2 separate regions of the Homo sapiens genome follow, and region 2 is linked to region 1. The links come from fine-mapping of genetic effects on gene expression. A gene starts in region 1. The other region holds a variant in brackets. All regions are shown on one strand. Distances are from middle to middle. Region 1 holds the start of UCP2 (uncoupling protein 2). Region 2 holds the start of UCP3 (uncoupling protein 3).

Region 1 (11,806 bases):
TCTTCCTTAAGAGTGTTAATATAAGCATGTGTTCAATACTATGGCCTATATATAGGATTTAATATTTTTCACCAGGTTGGCATTGTCAGTGCTGTGTTTGGGGTAAATATAATAGTTTTCTACTTTGTCTTACATGAGGTACAAACTAAAAGTATGTTATAAAGATTTGTCTATATAAGAAAACTAGGGTCAGGCATGGTGGCTCACGCCTGTAATCCCAACATTTTGGGAGGCCGAGGCGGGTGGATCACCTGAGGTCAGGAGTTCAAGACCAGCCCAGCCAACATGGTGAAACTCTGTCTCTACTAAAAATACAAAAATTAGCTGGGCGTGGTGGCAGGTACCTGTAATCCCAGCTGCTCGGGAGGCTGAGGCAGAAGAATCGCTTGAACCCGGGAGGTGGAGGTTGCAATGAGCCCAGATCATGCCATTGCACTCCAGCCTGGGCAACAAGAGTGAAACTCGGTCTCAAAAAAAAAAAAAAGAGAAGAAGAAGAAAGAAAACTAGGTGGAGTGTGGTGGCTTGCACCTATAATCCCAGCACTTTGGGAGGCCGAGGTGGGTGGATCTATTGAGGCTAGGAGTTCAAGATCAACCTGCCAACATGACGAAACCCCACCTCTACTAAAAATACAAAAAATTAGCACGGCGTGGTGTGTGTGCCTGTAATCCTAGCTACTTGGAAGGCTGAGGCAGGAATCGCTTGAACCTGGGGGGCAGAGGTTGCAGTGAGCCAAGATCTTGCCACTGCACTCCAGGCTGGGCGACACAGCACAACTCTATCTCAAAAAAAAAAAGAAAAAACAAAAGAAAACTAATATATCAAAATAATTTCTAGTTAGTTGGATTCACTCACTTATTCATTCAATGACTTATTGAATTATCATATATTACTAGTGCTTTTTAATACATACCTTCTACAATTTTTCAACTGAAAATTACTTCATTGATCAGGGCTCTTTAAACTGATCTCCATTTGCATTGTTTTACTAACTATAGTTATTATTCATGTATTAGCACTCTGAGCCTACTGTAATGATGTGTACCTTAATAAAGAACTGAATATTTGTAATGGCTGGCAGTGAATTTAGTAGTTCTTGAATTTAGAGCTCAAAATATGGGAGTAATTTGCTGCTTTATTTCCTTTGAGAGGTAATAGAGGAAAAACAGAATCTAATAACAATCACAGATTTTCGGGAAAGCACTGTAAAACCATATGATCAATTCTAGCTTCTTATGTAAACATGGAAAGATTGCCAGCTGAACACCTGTCATGCTCTAAGAAGTTGGGGAGAATTTGCATTTTTAGAACTGTGAGCAAAATGAGAACGACTGCTATGTTCATGCTTTGTGAATTTAGCTTTATTTCATTCACACAATTCATGGGAAAAAATGCATCTTTTAACTCGGTGTTTTTCAATTCAACTTTTAAAATACAGGAGTGGGCCAGACCCGGTGGCTCACACCTGTAATCTCATCACTTTGGGAGGCCGAGGCAGGTGGACCACAAGGTCAAGAGATAGACACCATCCTGGCCAACATGGTGAAACCCCATCTCCACTAAAAATACAAAAATTAGCTGGGCATGTTGGCACGTACCTGTAATCCCAGCTACTCGGGAGACTGAGGCAGGAGAATCGCTTGAACCTGGGAGATGGAGGTTACAGTAAGCCGAGATCGCGCCACTGCACTCCAGCCTGGCGACAGAGCAAGACTCCATCTCAAAAAAAAAAAAAAAAAAAAAAAAAAAAAAAAAAAAAAACCAGGATGTGTTACCAAGGAAAATTCATTTACAATGGTTAATTATGTGACAAACATGTCAAGTAATTCCATCTGGCTTTGTGTCACCATTTCCCCACCCTTTTTTCAGAAACCAAAACCAAGAAGAAGAACAAACATCAAAATGGACATGGAAATTAACAAATATATGATTCAATTTAATCTCCTAAGAGGTTTTTTAAAATTATTTTATTTTGAGACGGAGTCTTGCTCTGTCGCCAGGCTGGAGTGCAGTGGCAGGATCTCAGCTCACTGCAACCTCCATCTCCCAGGTTCAAGCGATTCTCCTGCTTCAGCCTCCCAAGTAGCTGGAACTACAGGCAAGCACCACCACACCCAGCTAATGTTTGTATTTTTGGTAGAGATGGGGTTTCACCATGTTGGCCAGGATGGTCTCGATCTCTTGACCTCATGATCCACCCGCCTTGGCCTCCCAAAGTGCTGGGATTACAGGTATTTTTTATTTTTTTTGAGACAGGGTCACCCTGTCACCCAGGCTGGAGTGTAGTGGCACAATCATGGCTCACTGCAGCCTCAACCTCCCAGGCTCAGGTGATCCTCCATGTCAGCCTCCCAAGTAGCTGGAACTATAGGCGTGCAACACCATGCCCAGCTAATTTTTGTATTTTTTGTAGAGACAGGGATTTGCCATGTTGGCCAGGCTGGTCTTCAACTCCTGGCCTCAAGTGATCCACCCGTCTCAACCTCCCAAACTGCTAGGATTACAGGTGTGAGCCACCGTGCCCCATCTCATCTGCTAAGTGGGTTTAAAGAAATTCAGTTTCATGTCAATTTTTAAAATGTATGGTTATCAAATTCGACTTCTTTTTAAAAATGCAATCAGATAACTGTATGCTTGTTTGATGAGGGGAGGAAAGTTAATATAGCCAATCTACTCAATATTTTTAGCAGAAATTATCAGAGACTAAGGAAATGTTTAAGTTTTTCTCATGTTGGTTTTAATTACCTAATGTTTTCAGTTTTCTCTTTCATTCTTGTGTCTTTTTTTCATTTTCAGTGTTTCAAATACAGTTTGTATTTAAAGATTTAGAAGTTCCAAAACTGTAAGCACAGTGGATTGTTTCCTGGGATGATGTTAAAATTATACAACAAAATATATGAAACTTTGTCAATTTGGTTATTGGCACATACAAAATATTTACAAATAAACGTGTGTGTGTGTGCGTGTACACACAATTCAATGAAATAGATGTGAAACAAGTTTTCTTTTTTTTTTTTTTGAGACAGAGTCTTGCTCTGTCGCCCAGGCTGGAGTGCAATGTCGCAGTCTCAGCTCACTGCAACCTCTGCCTCCCGGGTTCAAGCGATTCTCCTGCCTCAGCCTCCCGAGTAGCTGGGACTACAGGCACCTACCACCACTCCCAGCTAATTTTTGTGTTTTTAGTAGAGACAGGGTTTCACCATGTTAGCCAGGCTAGTCTCCAACTCCTGACCTCAGGTGATCTGCCCGCCTCAGCCTCCCAAAGTGCTGGGATTGCAGGCGTGAGCCACCTCACCTGGCTACAAGTTTTCAAAATACATTTATCTGTACCCATACATTCTCCAGTTTGTCCACAGGACATCTTATGACTTGAGCAAGCTGCTAAAAATCCAAGGGTGCAGCGTTTGTATGTCTATAGGATTGCTCAGATCTGCCCCCACCCTGAAAGAATTTAAGAGAATTTCTTGAGGCCAGGCACAGTGGCTCACACCTGTAATTCCAGTACTGTGAGAGTCCGAGGTCAGAGGACTGCTTGAGGCCAGGAGTTCAAGAGCAGCCTGGACAACATAGGGAGACCTGTCACTACAAAGAATAAATAAATTAGCCAGGCTTAGTGGCTCATCCCTGTGGTCCCAGCTACTAGGGAGGCAGAAGTAGGACTGCTTGTCCCAGGAGGTCAAGACTGCAGTGAGCTGAGACCCAGCCACCTGCATTCCAGCCTGGGCAACAAAAAGAGACCCTGTCTCAAAAAATAAGTTAAATAAATAAATAATAAAAATAGTTTAAACCCTAAACACATCTTCTTTTTCAAAGAGGACTTCTTAAGGACTTCATGCTGCGTCCTGTTGATCTCCACTTCCCTTTTTCAGCGTCCACACTTTTAACAGTCTCTTTTGCCAAGGATAATAAGTATATAGTTTCTGGAATCCAGATTCTTCCCTGTTTGGACAGCCAGGGGGACAATTTTTGGTCTGCAGGCCTTTGCATCTGTTCTGCTGTTGCTCAGCAATCTCACAGCAAATTTGCCGAGCCTCTCCGGAATGCACAGCCAGACAGAGCTCAGCGCAAAAGCTAGAGAACCTGGCGGAGGGAGACTCACAGTGCCACAAAAAAACTTTATCTTTTCTTTTTTTTTTTCTTTTCTTTCTTTCTCTTTCTTTCTTGTCTTTCTGTCTTTCCTCTCTCTCTCTCTGTCTTTCTTTCCTCTCTTTCTTTCTTTTTTCCTACATGGCAAGATCTCCTCATGGCAGAAATAATCTGCCTTGACTTCTGTTTCCACGCTGCTTCTGCCAGGACCATGCGCTCGGCGTGTTTTTCTTTCCGCTATAATTATCCAGGCCCATCCCAGCTCTGGTCCCCTCAGCTGTTCCCTGGCAGTCCCTTCTGCTGGTGAAAACACATATGGCGCCGGCCTGACCAGGGTGTAAGTGTGTGAATATCAGGAAGATGACTGAACGTCTTTGGGACTCCGTTTCCTCATTGTAAAATGGAGGTTAATACCAGCCTTCTTCTACTCCCCAAACGCACGTGTTTGTCCCGGCCAGAGGGCCCAATTGTTGGCTGTTCACGCGTCAGTTACCCCCACAGGACGGGTCAGCCAATTAAAGGCGAACCAGGCCCGGTCCATCTCCTGACGCCTTTTCTCATCCCAGGGCTGGACAGGCAGCTGGCCTGGGCCCGGCTCTGCCTTGTCACGTGCGGGGGCCGGCCCGTTTGCTTGTCTGTGTGTAGGAGCGTGAGGTCACGCTGGGTGCTCCCGCCCCGCCGGGGCCTTTAGTGTCCTGGTCCCTAAACGCCAGGCCGCTCCACCGGGGGAGAAGGCGCGAACCCCAGCCGAGCCCAACGGCTGTTGTCGGTTGCCGGGCCACCTGTTGCTGCAGTTCTGATTGGTTCCTTCCCCCGACAACGCGGCGGCTGTAACCAATCGACAGCGAGGCCGGTCGCGAGGCCCCAGTCCCGCCCTGCAGGAGCCAGCCGCGCGCTCGCTCGCAGGAGGGTGGGTAGTTTGCCCAGCGTAGGGGGGCTGGGCCCATAAAAGAGGAAGTGCACTTAAGACACGGCCCCGCTGGACGCTGTTAGAAACCGTCCTGGCTGGGAAGGCAAGAGGTGTGTGACTGGACAAGACTTGTTTCTGGCGGTCAGTCTTGCCATCCTCACAGAGGTTGGCGGCCCGAGAGAGTGTGAGGCAGAGGCGGGGAGTGGCAAGGGAGTGACCATCTCGGGGAACGAAGGAGTAAACGCGGTGATGGGACGCACGGAAACGGGAGTGGAGAAAGTCATGGAGAGAACCCTAGGCGGGGCGGTCCCCGCGGAAAGGCGGCTGCTCCAGGGTCTCCGCACCCAAGTAGGAGCTGGCAGGCCCGGCCCCGCCCCGCAGGCCCCACCCCGGGCCCCGCCCCCGAGGCTTAAGCCGCGCCGCCGCCTGCGCGGAGCCCCACTGCGAAGCCCAGCTGCGCGCGCCTTGGGATTGACTGTCCACGCTCGCCCGGCTCGTCCGACGCGCCCTCCGCCAGCCGACAGACACAGCCGCACGCACTGCCGTGTTCTCCCTGCGGCTCGGTGAGCCTGGCCCCAGCCCTGCGCCCTTTGCGCCCCCCACGCTTGTTCTGCGTGCGCTGCCCGCTCTTCCATTTACCTTCTCTCCCACCCAAGTTTGTACTCTTTTCTTTCTCTCGGTTTTATTTTTTGTTTTTGTTTGTTTGTTTGAGACAGGCTTTCGCTCTGTCTCCCAGGCTGGAGTGCAGTGGCGCGATCTCGGCTCACTGCAGCCTCCACCTCCCAGGTTCAAGCGATCCGCCTGCCGAGTAGCTGGGATTACAGGCGCCCGCCACCACGCCTGGCTAATTTTTGTGTTTTGTAGAGATGGGGTTTCGCCATGTTGGCCAGGCTGGCCTCGAACTGCTGAGCTCAAGCAATCCGCCCGCCTCGGCCTCACAAAGTCCTAGAATTTTAGGCATGAGCCTCCGGGTCCGGCCTGTGCTAATCCTTTCTGTCCTTGGTTCTTTATTTCTCTTCTCTCTTTTTCTTAGTCCCTTTTGTTCTTTCCCTCTCCCGTTCAGTTGGCTGTCGTTTGAGCCTCCACCTTTTCACTCCCTCCTTTCCACCACGATGCCGAGCCCTGCCTTGGATGGGGACCATCAGCGATGACCACAATGACCTCTCCCTTACCAGGCAGCTCCAGGCAGTGTTCCTGCACCGCCTTTCCCAGGGCTTGGGGGCTTTTTCTAGTGGGCTTTGAGCTGCTCAATCTGGCCTCTGCAGGGCCGGCTCCCAGCCCTTCCAACCTCCTCACAGCCCGACCTGGGACCTAGCCAATTCCCGGAGAGTCTCTGTCCCATCGTGACCCCCTCACAACTCTCCCACTCACCAAAGTCTGATGACTGTGCTAGGGGGTGCTTATATAGAGTACTGAGTGTTACAAAAGCAGAAGTCTGGATGAGAACCAATTTGTGATATTAAGCAGGTGGGGTGGGGGTGGGGAGTGTACCTAGGTTCATTTTCCGCCCTGCTTTTCCCCTTTCCAGTGTGTGCACTTAACCAGTCCCTGGGCCCTGTTCCCCATCCCCCTCCAAGGCATGGATTGGGTGGGCTTGTGTGTCTTGGGGCAGGTGGCCCTTTCTAAACTCTCTGCCTTTGCTCACCCACAGGACACATAGTATGACCATTAGGTGTTTCGTCTCCCACCCATTTTCTATGGAAAACCAAGGGGATCGGGCCATGATAGCCACTGGCAGCTTTGAAGAACGGGACACCTTTAGAGAAGCTTGATCTTGGAGGCCTCACCGTGAGACCTTACAAAGCCGGGTAAGAGTCCAGTCCAAGGAAGAGGTCTCTTGCTGCCTCCTAACCCTGTGGTCTAGGGGCAGGAGTCAGCAGGGCATTAACAAAAATAATTACCATCCCCACCCCCGACAGTGAAGTGGCTCTTTCCAGTTCACAGAGCACTCTCACACCTCCCCGCTCTCATTCTGGCCCTTCAGCTGACTCGGACAAGCCAAGGATCTTGGTCCCCATTTTATAAAGGAGAAAACTGAGGCCCACGTGTAACAGTGATTGGCCCCAAGTCATCCCGGGAGCCAGCAGAAGAGCTAGGACAGGAACCTATTGTTCTAACTTCATATTGATGCTAGCTTTTGACTATCCCTGAAACCGAGATTGGTAATCAGCCCGGCTCTGAAACTGGTTATTTGCTGGGGACTGTAAAATAGGATTAACTATTTCTAGTCCTGCATTTTAATTGCTGTTAGTAGGGCCATCTTACCCACCCTCTGAAGGACCTGACTTGGCAAGCCCAAGGCAACATTCAGAATATGGCAGCTGAACCTCTGTGCACTTGTCTTTGGGCAGCAGCTGGGTCTTATTCTTCTCTGGCCTTCACAACATCCTGCAACCCAGCTCAAGGTCAGGAATGTGACAGACTCATGTCATCATATCTCTGATGCCCAGAGAAGGGATACCATTTGCCTGAGCCTTCTCAGTACTGTTTAATCAGCCTGTGAGAACTTTCCTTGTGAAAGGCCCTGTCTGTGCCTGGGGCTGATAAAACAGCAAGAACGAACTGAGGAGCTGGGCAGCAGTGCAAAGCAAATACTACCAGCTTTGGTGCCTGTAAGTGTGGCTCTTACTCATCTCACATGGAAATAAGGGCAGCCACCTTGCAGGGCTGCTCTGAGGATTGAGCTAATACAGTGCCCTGGGCGTTGGGGTGGGGAAAGTTGTGGAGCACCTCCTGGGGGAAGGGGGTGTCAGAGCAGGGAATCTGGGGAGTCCGAGGGCACCTTCATCAACCCAATCTGTCATTTGAGCACCAGTCTTCACTGAGCCTCGTGGGCAAGCTGGAGGGAAACAGGAATAAGGTCAGGCCCTGTTCTATAGGTCCCAGTGTAGTTGCTATGGTGAGTATCTTCATTTCCCTGCTTGCCCCAGCCACCTGGAGTGAGAAGCCCAAGAGGAAGCTGGGTGAGCTGTTTGTTTCCATGGGTCTCTGTGTTCACAGCTGACTCCCTTCACCAGCCAGCCCTTTCACCTGAGCCCCAGCAACAAAGGCAGTCAGGCGGGGCTCAAAGCAGCTGCTCCAATGAAGTCAAAGAAATAAGCTCAGGGGAAGAAGCAGGTCACCCTCCCCCACTAGGGTGCTGGGCTCACTTCCTCCTGGGGCAGTGGAGGAGGGTGTGGTTCCAACTCAGAACAAAATGGGGCTTTTGGTTTACTTTATCACTCTTCACAGCTCTGACCTGGACCCCTCATCCCTGCCTGTCTTGTGGTGTAAGTGCGGATCCCCCTAAGTTGGAGGAAAGGAAACTGGCCCAAACAAAAAGGAGAGCAGTTTTCTCTGCATCACATGGTAGGCCAGGAGGAGTCTAATGCCCCAGAGTTTACTCTCAGCCCCCAAAATCACCTAGCTAAATGTTACCTTATCTAAGAAGTCCTTAGGTTTTTTGGGGTTTGTTTTTTTTTTTTTTGAGACAAGGTCTCACTCTCTCACCCAGACTGGAGCACAGTGGCACAATCACAGCTCACTGCAGCCTCAACCTCCTGGGCTCAAGCAATCGTCCCAAGTAGCTGGGACTATAGGCCTGCACCACCATGTCCAGCTAATTTATTTTTATTTATATTTTTTAGACAGGGTCTCATTATGTTGCCCTGGCTGGTCTTGAACTCCTGGGTTCAAGCAGTCCTCCCACCTCTGCCTCCCAAAGTGCTAGGTTTTTTTTTGTTTGTTTGTCTGTTTTTTGAAACAGAGTCTTGCTCTGTCGCCTAGGCTGGAGTGCAGTGGCACGATCTCAGCTACTGCAACCTCCACCTCCTGGGTTCAAGTGATTCTCCTGCCTCAGCCTCCTAAGTAGTTGGGAATACAGGCGTGTGCCAACACACCCAGCTCATTTTTGTATTTTTAGCGGAGATGGGGTTTTGCCATGTTGGCCAAGCTGGTCTCAAACTCCTGACCTCAGGTGATTCGCCCGCCTCAGCCTCCCAAAGTGCTGGGTTTACAGGCGTGAGCCACCACACCCAGCCCAAGAAGTCTTTTCTGATCACCCACTCTTCCTTCTCTCCCAATGGCATTAGTTGTTCCCTCCTTTGCATTTTGAGAGTATGTCCTGTAAGCCCCAAATGCAGCTTGAATCATCTGCCCATCCACCCCCTGTGCCCAACAGTAAGCCTCCTCTAGAGTAGATACTATCTCCTGCATCTCAGTGAACCACTGCCCAGCAAAGCAGTCTTGCTAAAACAATGACTCTAGAGATCCTAAGCTGTGTGAGAGCTGGAGGAGAGAATTAGACTGATGGTCTGGGAAGGGATTGAATTAGTCATCTTGTACCTTTTCTTCTTGACTTAAGTTCCAGACCTGTAGCAACCATTCCTGCTTAGACATCCAGAACATAAGCCTATGGGTCTGTGCCTGTTGGGTCTTAGTCTGGGTGAAACTTTTCTCTACTTCTGTCAGCTCTCCAGATGAACCACAGAAGCAGGAATGTGGGCATCATCAGTGAAATCTCTGCATACAGCAGACAAAGGGCTGGTCCAGTGGCTGTTTATGAGGCAGCGCTAGGAGAGCTCTGATCCAGACTCTCCCTGCAGTGAAAGGGAGGGAGCCCTTCATGAAGTATTGACTGCTTGAGCAGGAATTGCTTCACCAGCACCTAACTGAGTGCCTCTCGAGCTCACATCGGTTTTCCCTCATGAGGCCACTTGGAGTCTTGCTGAGGGACTTGGTTCTATTAGGGAAGGTGAGTTTGGGGATGGTGAGCAGGGAGGGCCTGGGGACATTGTGGCTAATGGGGCTTTTCTCCTCTTGGCTTAGATTCCGGCAGAGTTCCTCTATCTCGTCTTGTTGCTGATTAAAGGTGCCCCTGTCTCCAGTTTTTCTCCATCTCCTGGGACGTAGCAGGAAATCAGCATCATGGTTGGGTTCAAGGCCACAGATGTGCCCCCTACTGCCACTGTGAAGTTTCTTGGGGCTGGCACAGCTGCCTGCATCGCAGATCTCATCACCTTTCCTCTGGATACTGCTAAAGTCCGGTTACAGGTGAGGGGATGAAGCCTGGGAGTCTTGATGGTGTCTACTCTGTTCCCTCCCCAAAGACACAGACCCCTCAAGGGCCAGTGTTTGGAGCATCGAGATGACTGGAGGTGGGAAGGGCAACATGCTTATCCCTGTAGCTACCCTGTCTTGGCCTTGCAGATCCAAGGAGAAAGTCAGGGGCCAGTGCGCGCTACAGCCAGCGCCCAGTACCGCGGTGTGATGGGCACCATTCTGACCATGGTGCGTACTGAGGGCCCCCGAAGCCTCTACAATGGGCTGGTTGCCGGCCTGCAGCGCCAAATGAGCTTTGCCTCTGTCCGCATCGGCCTGTATGATTCTGTCAAACAGTTCTACACCAAGGGCTCTGAGCGTGAGTATGGAGCAAGGGTGTAGGCCCCTTGGCCCTTTTTTCTCAGTGATGATTGATCTTAGTTCATTCAGCCATATAGTTTTTTAGGCCCCACGATCCCTAGGAAGATCAGGGGAACAGAGAACTGGAAGGGGCCCTGGTCCTCCACATAGTTCCTAAGCACCTGGGCTATACCAGGCTCTGAGCAGGGCGTCATCCCATCACAGTCTTCAACACCACCTTGGGAGTAGGTAGTATCATCCCAGTGTTATAGAAGAAGAGACTGAGGTGGGAAGGCAGTGGGTAGAGTGGGGACTTGGCCAGGGGCACACAGTAGAGAGCCAGAAAACACACAGTAGAGAGCCAGGACACTCGTCTCTAAGGCCAGCGTTCTTCCCTTTCACCTCCTTAGTATGCCATGCCAACCCTCCATTTTACACATGACGAAACAGAGCCCCAGACAAAAGGTTGTCTTTCCCAGATCACATGGCAGGAAGAAGTAAAGCTGACCTGAGATCCCAAGTCTTAGGAATCCCAGTCCTCAGAAAGCCACTTCTCTCTGAGCCTTGGTTTTCACATTTGTCAGATGGAAATGATTGTGATTTCTCAGGGCTGTTGAGCAGGTAAATGAAAATGTTTTATGAAAGAAAGCACCAAGTTTCATTTTGGTCTTAGCCCTTGCTATGTCCCTAGCAAGAAGTAGATATTCATAGGGATATTTTGTTTGATGTGAGGAGTTCTTACAGCAAGAGCTTGTAGAAGGCCAAAAGCTTCTGGATTCTATTCCCAAAAGCAGGAGATGACAGTGACAGGGTGGTTTTGGTGAGGAGAGATGAGGTAGAAAATGAGTGCAAGCCCGCTGGCCACTGACCCCATGGCTCGCCCACAGATGCCAGCATTGGGAGCCGCCTCCTAGCAGGCAGCACCACAGGTGCCCTGGCTGTGGCTGTGGCCCAGCCCACGGATGTGGTAAAGGTCCGATTCCAAGCTCAGGCCCGGGCTGGAGGTGGTCGGAGATACCAAAGCACCGTCAATGCCTACAAGACCATTGCCCGAGAGGAAGGGTTCCGGGGCCTCTGGAAAGGTGTGTACCAGTTGTTTTCCCTTCCCCTTTTCCTCCTCCCCGATACTCTGGTCTCACCCAGGATCTTCCTCCTCCTACAGGGACCTCTCCCAATGTTGCTCGTAATGCCATTGTCAACTGTGCTGAGCTGGTGACCTATGACCTCATCAAGGATGCCCTCCTGAAAGCCAACCTCATGACAGGTGAGTCATGAGGTAGACGGTGCTGGGTCTCACCCTTCCCCCATGCCAGGAGCAGGTGCGGGGGTCTAGCTGACACCAGAAGACCACATCTTTTCATCCTATTTGCCCTTTGCAGGGAGAGTAAGATATCTCTTACTTGCCATATTGAAGCCAATTGGGATGAAGC
Region 2 (11,806 bases), 23 kb before region 1:
CCCTCCCCAGCACCACAGAGGCCAGCCTCCCTCTCAAGTCACCAGCACAGAGCATTCAAGGCCCAGGGCCCCACTTCCCTTGGGGCCCAGGGGACCTAAAGAGGGGCAGTCAGGGCCCAGGCCTGAGGGGGAAAGCCCCAGGTAAAGAATATTCCTCCAAATCCCACTCCAGCTCCCGCAGACAACCTGATCGGGGTCAGGAGGACACACTCCTACCCCAGGCTGAGAGCAGCCTCTGATAACACAAAAGGACCCTGAGGGTGGAGACCTCCCACCTCCACTTCAAAACAGTGTGTTATTTATCAATATCTTATCCCCGGAAGTTGAATCTATCTCCCAGTGCCAACTCCGAGATAAATGACTTGACCAGGCGTGTGGCATGGATTAAGGCATGAGATAGGTGTTCCCACCACCAGAACGAGCCAGTGGCTGCCTCTCTTCCCTTTGAGCCCTCCCTCCACAGAGACCTGTGAATAGGTGTTTCTGATCCCTAGGCTGGTTGCATCCCAACCCAGAGCAGGCAGCCTTCGGACTTCTAGCATGGGCTGGCCTCAGGACATGGAGCCAAAGCAGGCAGACCTGGCCCTGCCCTCAAGCTCCCAAGCTAAAGAGAGCCTGGCCCTCCCTCCCACTAGGTTTCTCCAGAGCCTGCTGCCTCCTGGTTTGGGCTTCTACTCTATTCTTCCCCCACAGACTCCCTGCAATTTACTGCATCACCTCTAGACTAGCAATTACAGATGGAGCTCAGAACCTACTTCCTGAGCCTTCCTAATCTCAGCAGCCCTGACAGCCACTTCCCTCTTAACACTAATGCAGCTGCTTATTCTGCTGACATTAAGGTCAGGGCCTGGTCCAAGGAAGAGGACAGGTACAGCCCAAGCTTTGCACTTGAACATCCATGCTTCTGACCACCTGCCCTGTGACGCTGGCTCTGTGCCCCAGTCCAGAAAAGACTTCTGCCTACTCCTCCTCTGCCCTACCCAGTTAACTCCCTTTCCTTCCCTCCCTTCTGCTTCTCACTCCTCCCCTCCCTTCTCTTCTTCTTCTCCCCTTCCCCCATCACCTGGGGCCCGATTCAGCTGTGCCCAGCCCTTACTCTGAGTGCCCACAGATGGAGCCTCCAGTAGCTTCTGTGGGGCACCCTTCCACCAGGTCCCAGCTCCCTTGGCTCCAGCAGTGTCCATGCTAAAGCCTCCAAGTGTCATGTTGGAGAGAATGGTGGTCACAGTAGATAAGCCCAAAATGCCTTACAGTTTACAGGCTGGAGTCAGGCCCCGCCACGTGCTGGCTACATGACTTCCCTGAGATTCCATTTCCTCCTCAGTAAAATAAGTGGTAAGATTTTAGGATCCCCAGCACTAAAAAGAAACGAAATACTGATACAGGCTCCAACATGGATGAATTTTGAAAGCATTACTATACTAAGTGAAAGAAGCCAGTCACAAACAAGCACATATTGGATGATTCCATTTCTAGGAAGTGTTCAGAACAGGCAAATTTATAGAGACAGAAAGTAGATTGATTAGTGGTTGCCTGAGGCTGGGGAGCGGGGGAAGGGAGGTGACTACCAATGTGTATGGAGTTTTTCCAGGGTGAGAGGGTGATGAAAATGTTCTAAAATAGATTGTGTTGATGGTTGTGCCACTCAGAATATACTAAAAACCATTTGAATTGTGCACTTGAAACAGATGAATTGTACGGTATGTGAATTCTATATCAATAAATCTGTAATTTAAAAAAAAAAAATTAGGTCGGGTGCAGTGGCTCACACCTATAATCCCAGCACTTTGCCAGACTGAGGCAGGAGGATCACTTAAGCCCAGGAGTTCAAGACCAGCCTGGGGAACACAGCAAGACCTCGTCTCTACTAAAAAATTTTAAATTACAAAAAAAAAAAGTAAAAAAAATAGAATCCTAATAGTACCTATCTCATAGGATTGTGGAAAATAGTAGTAATGTATGTAAAATATTTAGCACATAGTAGGCACAAAGAAATGACATTATTATTAAGAGACCTGGGAGAGCTGTGCCCAGCCTATCGTGGGAGGCCTTGACCTTTGGACTCAAAAGTGGCAGCAGGTCCACCCCCCCATACACCCTTGTCACCAAGGAAGCGTCCACAGCTTAAAGGAGCTATATTAAAGCACCCCAAGTCAAGAGGACTGAACCAGATCTGGAACTCACTCACCTCCCCTCTCACCTCACTGCCCTCACCAGCCAGCCTCTTGTCAAGTGATCAGGCTGTCAACCAACTTCTCTAGGATAAGGTTTCAGGTCAGCCCGTGTGTATAAGACCAGTGCCAAGCCAGAAGCAGCAGAGACAACAGTGAATGACAAGGAGGGGCCATCCAATCCCTGCTGCCACCTCCTGGGATGGAGCCCTAGGGAGCCCCTGTGCTGCCCCTGCCGTGGCAGGACTCACAGGTAAGACCCCTTTCTCCTCCCTCATCCCTTCCCCTCTCCCTCTCCCTTCTCCTTGTTCTCCCTTTCATTGGAGGCTTTCAGAGAGCAGCCCCGAGCAGTCAGGGCTCACTAGCTGCAGCTTGTCAGACCTGATAGAGATTCAGTCCAGCCGCCACCTTATGAAAAGGGAGCTGTGGCCTTGATGAGGGTACTGTGGCAGGGCTGGGGCTTGAACCCAACACCCGTGTCACTCACTCAAGACTCACACCCCCTTTGCCTTGCTGGCTGCCTCTGGTGGGATTTTGCAAATCCCCATAGACAGGAAGTGGCTTTCTTCTTTGCCTGCCCCAGAATCTCTGCGATTCCTCCAGAGCATAAATCCCTCTCTTTCCATGAGGACCCTGGGGCCCTCTTCCTGAGTAGGGATGACAGGGGCACTTCTGACCTGAGGCGTGGTCCAGGTCATTTGCTGGGAGCTTTACAGAGCCCATGGTCTCTGCCCAGACGGCTTCTTCAGTGGGCTGCTGTGAAGGCTTTGCCGGGAGGGTGGGTTGGAGTTGGGGAGGCAACTGGTGTTGGGTAGGATGTCTCAAAATGGGGTCCTCTTCCCCTGCTTCAGAGCTACCACAGGGAGTTTTCCTAATGCAGATTCCTAGGCCCCACCCCAGACCTAAATCAGGATCTCTGGGGCTGAGAGCTGAGAATCTGCTCTGTAAACAAGCAGCTCAAGGGATCCTTGGCTCTCCCTGAAGTCTGAGACTCTCTGGGCAGTGAAACAGGCGCAGCTTCAGATGTCAGACAAACGTGGGCACCAATCTCAGCTCCAGCACTTCAGCTGTATGACTAGCAAAAGCCCTGGAAGCCTCAGGTCCCTGGTTTACGAAATGAGAATAATAATAGCAACTACTTGTAGCCTTATGAAGGGATCAAATCAGTCAGTGTCTGTAAAGCCCTCAGCACGGTATCTGGTGCAAGAAGCAACCAGCAAACATTAATGGACCATGCTGACTAGAACATCCCATCCCTCAGGAGCCCCAGCAGAGCTACAGTAATGAGGGTTCCACTTTTGACTTCTTCCTCCACTGGCCAGTGGCAAAAGGCTGCCGGCTGCTAGGGGTCTAGGAGAGTCTGGAGTGAATTGGGAAGAAGATTGGGGAGTGCTGGCCTCAAGGCACCTCCTACCTGTGCCCACCACTGTGGCTTTCCCTCCTCCCGCAGCTTGACTACTGAAAGTTCTAGAGCCCCAAGGTGGGCTTTTGACCTGAGTCTGTGTCCATCCATTCCATTTTCCATGAGTGGCTAAGAACTGCCCCTCTTGTCAAGTGATCACGCTGAGGCCAAGAGTTCAAGACCAGAATAGGCAACATAGAGAGACCCCCATCTCTACAAAAAATAAAAAATTAGCTGGGTATGGTGATGCACACCTGTAGTCCCAGCTACTCGGGAGGCTGAAGGTGGGAGGGTCACTTGAGTCCAAGAGGTCAAGGCTGCAGTGAGCCTGGATTGCACCACTGCACTCCAGCCCAGGTAACAGAGTGAGACCCTGTCTCAAAAAAAAAAAGGAGGCAGTTTGATATTGGGGAGAACAGATGCCTGAGCCTCGGTTTCCTCATGTATACAGTGCAGGTACCACTATCAGCTCTGCCTACCCCTGGTAAGGAGGGGAGGGAGAGGGTCAGGAGGAGGATTGCAAAATTCAAGGGATAGGAACGTGACCTGTTTTTATAGGCCAAATTCATGCAGCTTAAGTATGGCACCACCCAGGCTTCTCCCTTTCTAAAGCCCCTCCTGGGTAAGGAAGAGTTCCTGGGAGCCAGGCCAGACATCACTCCATCAGCCTTCTCTGGCCTGTCTCCTGCAGCCCCACCGCTGCACTGAAGCCCAGGGCTGTGGAGCAGCCTCTCTCCTTGGACCTCCTCTCGGCCCTAAAGGGACTGGGCAGAGCCTTCCAGGACTATGGTTGGACTGAAGCCTTCAGACGTGCCTCCCACCATGGCTGTGAAGTTCCTGGGGGCAGGCACAGCAGCCTGTTTTGCTGACCTCGTTACCTTTCCACTGGACACAGCCAAGGTCCGCCTGCAGGTAGGTGCCCTTTGGCCAAGGGTCATTGATCACATGGAAGGAGGGGCTAGTTCTCTCCCATATCCCCCATGACGTGTGCCCACATGCCCTTCCTCAGAACCCTGACAAAGACTCTCACTCCACTGCTTAGGACCCTTCCTTGCCTCCTCCCATCACCATCCACCAGGACAAAAAAATCTAAATTCTTTGCATGATGTGACAGGGCCCTTTATGGGCTAGGCCCTACTTTGTAAAGCATGCAGTGTGAGGTAAAAGTAAGGAATTAACTGTGTGACCTTGGGCAAGCCACGAAGCACTTATAAAATGGGAAAAACAATCTGTCCCTCTGATTTACTCTGAGGATCAAACACCAAGCCATGTGTATAATACTGCTTTGTGAATGGTAAAATGCTGCGCAGACACCAGTGATTTCTACTGTGACCAGCATGGTTGTTCTCAGGCCCAGCCCAGGCAGGCCCAGCCCCAGCAGGGTTCCTGTGCACGCAGCCCCTTCTTGCCTTCCCATCTGAGTCCTCACCCCCTGCTATTGTCCCTCAGATCCAGGGGGAGAACCAGGCGGTCCAGACGGCCCGGCTCGTGCAGTACCGTGGCGTGCTGGGCACCATCCTGACCATGGTGCGGACTGAGGGTCCCTGCAGCCCCTACAATGGGCTGGTGGCCGGCCTGCAGCGCCAGATGAGCTTCGCCTCCATCCGCATCGGCCTCTATGACTCCGTCAAGCAGGTGTACACCCCCAAAGGCGCGGACAGTGAGTGACCAGGTCCCTGAACACCAAAGGGGTGGCTGAAAGTGTGTGGGTCAAGAGACCAGGGAAGTCTAGACTCAGAGGCAGAGCCAGGGGCGGGGGGAAGCTGGTACCGGACGCTTATGAGGAGGCTCTGAGTGGACATCAAGGAAGCTGCAGGGGCAGCCCCGCAGAGAACAGCATGTCCCAGAATGCTGCTTAGTAGGGGACACTGGCCCACTCTCTCTGCCCCTCCCAGACTCCAGCCTCACTACCCGGATTTTGGCCGGCTGCACCACAGGAGCCATGGCGGTGACCTGTGCCCAGCCCACAGATGTGGTGAAGGTCCGATTTCAGGCCAGCATACACCTCGGGCCATCCAGGAGCGACAGAAAATACAGCGGGACTATGGACGCCTACAGAACCATCGCCAGGGAGGAAGGAGTCAGGGGCCTGTGGAAAGGTAGGTCTGGACTCTGGACGCAGGCGGTCTTAGGCAGAGCTTTCCCTCCCCTCAGGCTGGGGCAGGGACCCCAGTAAGGAGGGGACTCCCAGCATGGCGTGTTCCAGTGATTCTGAAAGAACATCACAACCAAAGATACTTCACTGACCTGCCACAGCCCCTCAAACTCAGTTCATTTTACCAGCCCTTTGCCATGTGCAGGTTGATGTGAGGGAGCCAGAAATGAACTTAAGACACCTTCACACGCCCAGGGCATGAGGACAGCAGAGGAGATAAGATGCAGCTACACCACAGGCAGGATGTGG[T/C]AGGGGTTGCCCCAGAGGTGGAGCTCCAGAGGCGGGCTCTGCAGAGAAGGTGACACCTAAGCTGGGCCTGGAAGACTGAACAGGCTCTAGGTGTGTGGAGACGGAAGGGGAGGGGCCCTCAAGCAGGGTCCGGAGGAAAAAGAGGAGCATCAGAAAAGCACAGCTGTGAGGAGTGGGCGCAGGGAGATGCAACGAGGAAGCGCTTCCTTGGGAGCAAAGCTGGAGGGCTCCCTATGTGTCCACATGGCAGCCACTGCGATGAATGCAGGACTCTCTCCGCATGTGAACCAGAGGTTGCAGGAACGTTTGCAGAAGAAACTGACCCAGTGAAGTTTAAGGGCAGGACACCTCTTAAGTTGGGGCTCTTCACTCACTTGTTGGGCACCCTTCAGAGCTTGTCCCCTTACCTGTGAAACCAGGGGTTTGATCCTGACAGTTTCCTAGGGCCCTGCTGGCACCACATTCTGTCACTGTTCCAAGAGCTCAGCCTCTCGCTGAATGACTTTCTTTTCTGGCTGCAGCTGGGTCTCCAGGAAGCATATTTTAATTTTGACAGCTATTGCAGATCACCCTCCAAATGTGGCCAAATGAACACAAGTGGGCCTCTCTGTTCTCTGTCTCTGAGGAAAACATGGATAATCTGAGAGTTGTTAACCCTAGAAAGGAAAATGTGGAATCTGCTCAGCTGGGGTGGGATCCTCTGGCTGAGACCATTGGAATGGGGCACTATGGCCCCAAAACTGGGGCCTGTGGCCTTGCAGCCAGGGCATCCATTTCTCCCATTTCCCATTCCTCCCTCCCCACCCATTTCACATCCCTCCCCACCGCCTTCCTAACAGGAACTTTGCCCAACATCATGAGGAATGCTATCGTCAACTGTGCTGAGGTGGTGACCTACGACATCCTCAAGGAGAAGCTGCTGGACTACCACCTGCTCACTGGTGAGGCCCTGGGCTCCAGGCAGGCAGCTCTCCCTCAGCAGGGAGGGAACCCAGAACTCCGTGGAGTGGGCACCACCCAGAGGCAACTGGGTTTTAGAAGGAGCAGAGAGAGAAGCAGTGCCTAGTAAAAAGTGCCAGGTACATTGTGGTGACAAGCAGGAAAGACCCCTGGGCTGGGAGGCTGGAGACTTGGGTTCCAGTCCCAGCACCACCTCTCACTATATAGCTTTAAGCAGGGGTCTCTCACCTTCTCCGACTTCAGTTTCCTCAAACAGCCTGCATGACCTCCCACCTCTGGGTCAGCCCAGGCCTAGTTTGCCAGTACTTACCAAGAGCTTAGCCCAGGGCACTGTGAGAGATATGGAAAATACTGTCCTATGCTCAGGGAGTTCACGGTTGAGTTGGGGACAAACAGTGCATACATATGGACAGAACACAAATGCACTCCTTGATATTTGCTTGTCCTTCCTCTGCAGACAACTTCCCCTGCCACTTTGTCTCTGCCTTTGGAGCCGGCTTCTGTGCCACAGTGGTGGCCTCCCCGGTGGACGTGGTGAAGACCCGGTATATGAACTCACCTCCAGGCCAGTACTTCAGCCCCCTCGACTGTATGATAAAGATGGTGGCCCAGGAGGGCCCCACAGCCTTCTACAAGGGGTGAGCCTCCTCCTGCCTCCAGCACTCCCTCCCAGAGAACAGGGGCTTCTTTCTTTTCGAATGTGGCTACCGTGGGTCAACCTGGGATGTAGCGGTGAAGAGTACAGATGTAAATGCCACAAAGAAGAAGTTTAAAAAACCATGCAAGTAAAAGAAAAAAAGTGAACCATACCTGATGGGGAGGGTTAGGGAAGCCTGACTGAGAACAAACACTCCAGGAATAGGTAAAAGTACTGCCTGTCTCCAGAGGAAGTTAGCAATCCTGAGACCTCCTGGACCTCCTGCCATGGCCATTGAGCACCACACTGACCATGGCCAGTGCCTTCCTCACTGTCTCCACACGCTCCACGTTTTCTTGCACTTACTGCTCCCTCTGCGTGGAATGCCTCATCATCTACAGGCTGTCAATTTTAGCCATCCTTCAAGACGAGTTCAAATGCCACCTCCTCCCTAACACTCTCAGGTGTAAATTTTTCCTCCTCCCTGGGAACTTCTGCAATGCCATTTGATACCATTTTTATGGTATTTATCACCTCCTGCCTTGTATTATAGTATTTGTAAGCTTAAATTATTCCTCATGCAAAGAGCAAGTTCCTGACAGCAAAAGTGGCTCAGACATCTTTTATCTCCCACAGTCCCTCACACAAAGTGAGCACTCGATAATGCAGGTTGTTTATGATTATCACAATAGCTAAGTCACTCTATATTAGGCCTCGTGCTGAGCACTTTACACACGTTATCCCAACAGCCCCTTGAACTGGGTAGTATTGTCCACATTAACTAAGGAAAAGACTGAGTGTCAGAAAAGTTAAGTAACTTATCCAAGATCACAGGTTAAAATGGTGGAGCCATGGCTCAAACCCTGACCGTCAGACACCACACCCAACAATGTTGTTTATCCTACTGGTAAGCTCTTAGCTTGGCCCTTTCACCTCCCACTGCTGATGTCTTCAACAGAGAGTTTTTTGGTGCCCAGTGTTAGAATGGACCCAACAAGTGAACAAGAGCTGCTATAGGTTCTCAAGCCTGGGAATGACGTAATAAAACTATACTGCAATTGACAGACTGTTCTTCCAAAAAGTGCCTCTATCATTACAGTCTTCAGCTGTAGCCACTTGTCTCAGTTACTGCTTTCACTTGTCCAACATTTCTGGAGCATCTTGTAGGTGCCAGGCCCTGGGTTATGCCTCCCTCAAAGAGCAGCAGATAAGTTGGTGGTATTTACTGAGCATGTATTGATGCTGGGCCCTGTGCTGAGTGCTGTCCAACATTAACTCACCTAATCTGCACGACTAACTCCACAAGGCAGATACTGTTATTTTCCTCATTTTACAGATAAGGAAACTGAGGCTTAGAAAGATTAAGTGATGTGTCCAGATTGTAAAGCTAGAAACTGGGAGAGCTTGGATTTGAACCCAGGTCTGACTCCAGAGTTTACATTTGTTGTCACAGTACTATCGTCCCCACAAGAGTCAAGAAAACCCATGGCATGAGGTCACAGTGCCCAAACTGAGTCCTCCAGAGCAAAGAGCAACCAGCCAGGGAAGGAGGAGAGGAGGGGACAGTCCAGGCAGAGGGAGCAAGAGGAGCAAAGGCATGGAGGGAAGAGGGCCTGGCATCGTCAGGGAATGTGACTAGCTGAGTCTGGTGGGAGCAAACGGGCCCAGGAGGTGGTTAGTGGAGGGACAGGCTGAGAGAGGGGCAGGGGCCAGCTCGTGGGCTTCTCCCTGAGTTGGTGAGCCACAGCTGAGGTGGGGACACTGTGCTATGCCATCACAGCACAGCCAGCCTCTCTGGAGAAGAGCTAAATCTGGTGCCACACTGTATTCACCCTGCAAAGCCCAAGCTTCTCCATGTCCTGGCAGGGGGCCATGTTAGGGCTGGCCACCCGGGGTGTAACTGAGCCCAGAAACACCCAGCAGCAGGGTGGAGTTAGAACCGCACCTCTGACACTTACTAGCCGCGGGTCTTTGGTTGAGCTCTTAACCTCCCTGGGCCTCAGTTTGTGAAAAAGAGCCTGGCAGCAACATGGCTGCCTTATAGAACTGTGAGAATTCGCTGCCTAACACAGTAACCCGTCTCAAAACGTGAGTTTTTTTTTCTTTTCCTTACTCCGACTTCTGCCTAAATCCCCTTAGCAGAAAAAAAAAAGAGAGAGAGAGACTGAAAGGATTCAGAAAATGCTTGTGATGAACAGAAGTCTGGATCCTCTGGCACTACCACTGTGTCCCGGGAGAGCACACGCATCTGTTGTGGTCCCCTAGCACTCCACCTGATGTGTTGGTTGTTTTTCTTATCAGATTTACACCCTCCTTTTTGCGTTTGGGATCCTGGAACGTGGTGATGTTCGTAACCTATGAGCAGCTGAAACGGGCCCTGATGAAAGTCCAGATGTTACGGGAATCACCGTTTTGAACAAGACAAGAAGGCCACTGGTAGCTAACGTGTCCGAAACCAGTTAAGAATGGAAGAAAACGGTGCATCCACGCACACATGGACACAGACCCACACATGTTTACAGAACTGTTGTTTACTTGTTGCTGATTCAAGAAACAGAAGTAGAAGAGGAGGAGGGATTCTGGTCTTCACTGCCATGCCTCAAGAACACCTTTGTTTTGCACTGACAAGATGGAAAATAAATTATATTAATTTTTGAAACCCATTAGGCATGCCTAATATTTAGGCAAGAGAAAATAAACCAAGATAGATCCATTTGGACAAAATGGAAGGTTGGAGACGTGTATCCCCGTGAAATCTGGTTAGATAATGAATGATAAGCAGGAAGGATGGCAAGCACGGGACAGGAGGGGCCCACAATGGAGTGGGAGATCAGCCACGGAGCCTGGAGGGATGCCACCCAGCAACACAGAGCTGGCGACTGCAGCTGCACCATCACACATGCATCATCAGCCTATTTGTAATATGTCTGCCACAGAGAGTCCTTTGGGATTCTAGGAAACCCAAGGAACAAGAGAAAAAACTAGAGCCTGTGCTAAAGAAGCCCTGCTGGGCCCATGTGAGGCTGGGGCTCGTAAATATTCCCTGACGACACTGAAGAATCAAGAGGGCAGCCCCCACTTTCCTACAAAATGGAGGGAGCCATCCCTTCCCTGTCCACCTCACCAGGGGTGCTATGACATGCAAGTGAGAAGCTGGGCATGAACGCACTTTATAAAAGCAAAAGCTCTGTGTAAATCTAACTACAAGGACAATGCCTTGGGAGAGATTTTGTCGGGACAGAGAGGAGTTGCCAGGGAAGAAGGTTTGAAAGATACGGTTGTCTAGAGGTGAGACCAAAGGATCCAGAGACTTGGGGACCAGAGGTGACAGTGGATGACGTGAAGCCACAGGAGCCCCACCCCCATGCAGCCTCTTCCCCACCCCCCCCACCACGTGCTCAATCATGAGTACCTCAAAGGATTGTTGGGCTTGGGGGAAAAGAGGTGGATTCCTGGGCAAGAACCTAAAGTAGCAGGACTCGGAATTCTCGGGAAATTATTATGACTCAATAAAAGAATTCACACCTTAGGTGTGGGAGTAAGAACAGCCACTTCTCTGCCTTTTCTTTCTTGGAATTTTCCTTTCTCACTTCTATTTCAGGCTTTCTATGTGTCAGGGCAGGGCCAGATCCAGCCCCACATGCCTACACTTCATCTGCCCCCTCTCACCCTGTTTAATTGCAGGCAAGTAGCTTTATTTTTTTAGGGTTCCAGCTCCTGCTTCTGCAAAAGGCAGGGTTGAACCAGACGACCGACTTCCAAGCTTAAGACTGTACATTTTTCGAATTGATAATGGGGACCCAAAATGCCACTATCTTTTTCTACTTCTTGGCAGCCTTGCGTAGCTCTGATGATTGTCAGGACTGGGTTCAAACCTCACCCCATTCTACCTTACTAACCACCTAGCCACAGGGAATCCTTGCACCTTGGTGTGCTACCAGAGAAGTGGGAATAACAATCGCTGCTTCACAGGCTTGTTGTGAGGGTTGACCTAAAACTCCTTGGAAAGCAGACATGTGGTGTGCACCTGCTACCTGGGAGGCTTAAGCGAGAGGACTGCTTGAGCCCAGGAGTTCAGGGCTGCAGTGAGCCATGACTGCACCTGTGAATAATGACTGCACTCCAGCCTTGGCAACAGAGCATAACTCCTTCTCTGAAACAAAACAAACAAAAAATCGTTGGCATACAGGAGGCACTCGGTAATGTCATTTCCCTGCTTCCCTGCTCCTACC

What was found. PIP is the estimated chance that this variant, and not a neighbour inherited with it, causes the effect.
Region 2: its variant is fine-mapped to the expression of UCP2 in whole blood (TOPMed, PIP above 0.99).

Annotation. Positions count from the first base shown.
Region 1 is chr11:73,976,475-73,988,280 of GRCh38, reverse strand. It overlaps UCP2 (uncoupling protein 2), which reads left to right and starts at 5,438. Exons shown (of 8, transcript NM_003355.3): 1 at 5,438-5,560; 2 at 6,649-6,805; 3 at 9,804-10,028; 4 at 10,185-10,395; 5 at 11,264-11,458; 6 at 11,539-11,640. The coding sequence starts at 9,903. RefSeq lists enhancers at 4,101-4,601, 7,853-7,912 and silencers at 4,858-5,017, 5,318-5,527.
Region 2 is chr11:73,999,596-74,011,401 of GRCh38, reverse strand. It overlaps UCP3 (uncoupling protein 3), which reads left to right and starts at 2,317. Exons shown (of 7, transcript NM_003356.4): 1 at 2,317-2,424; 2 at 4,265-4,485; 3 at 5,023-5,233; 4 at 5,469-5,672; 5 at 6,817-6,918; 6 at 7,395-7,575; 7 at 9,876-11,125. The coding sequence starts at 4,360. The coding sequence ends at 9,990. RefSeq lists enhancers at 2,069-2,708, 6,188-7,387 and a silencer at 2,842-3,022. The variant T/C (reference allele first, on the strand shown) is at 5,978.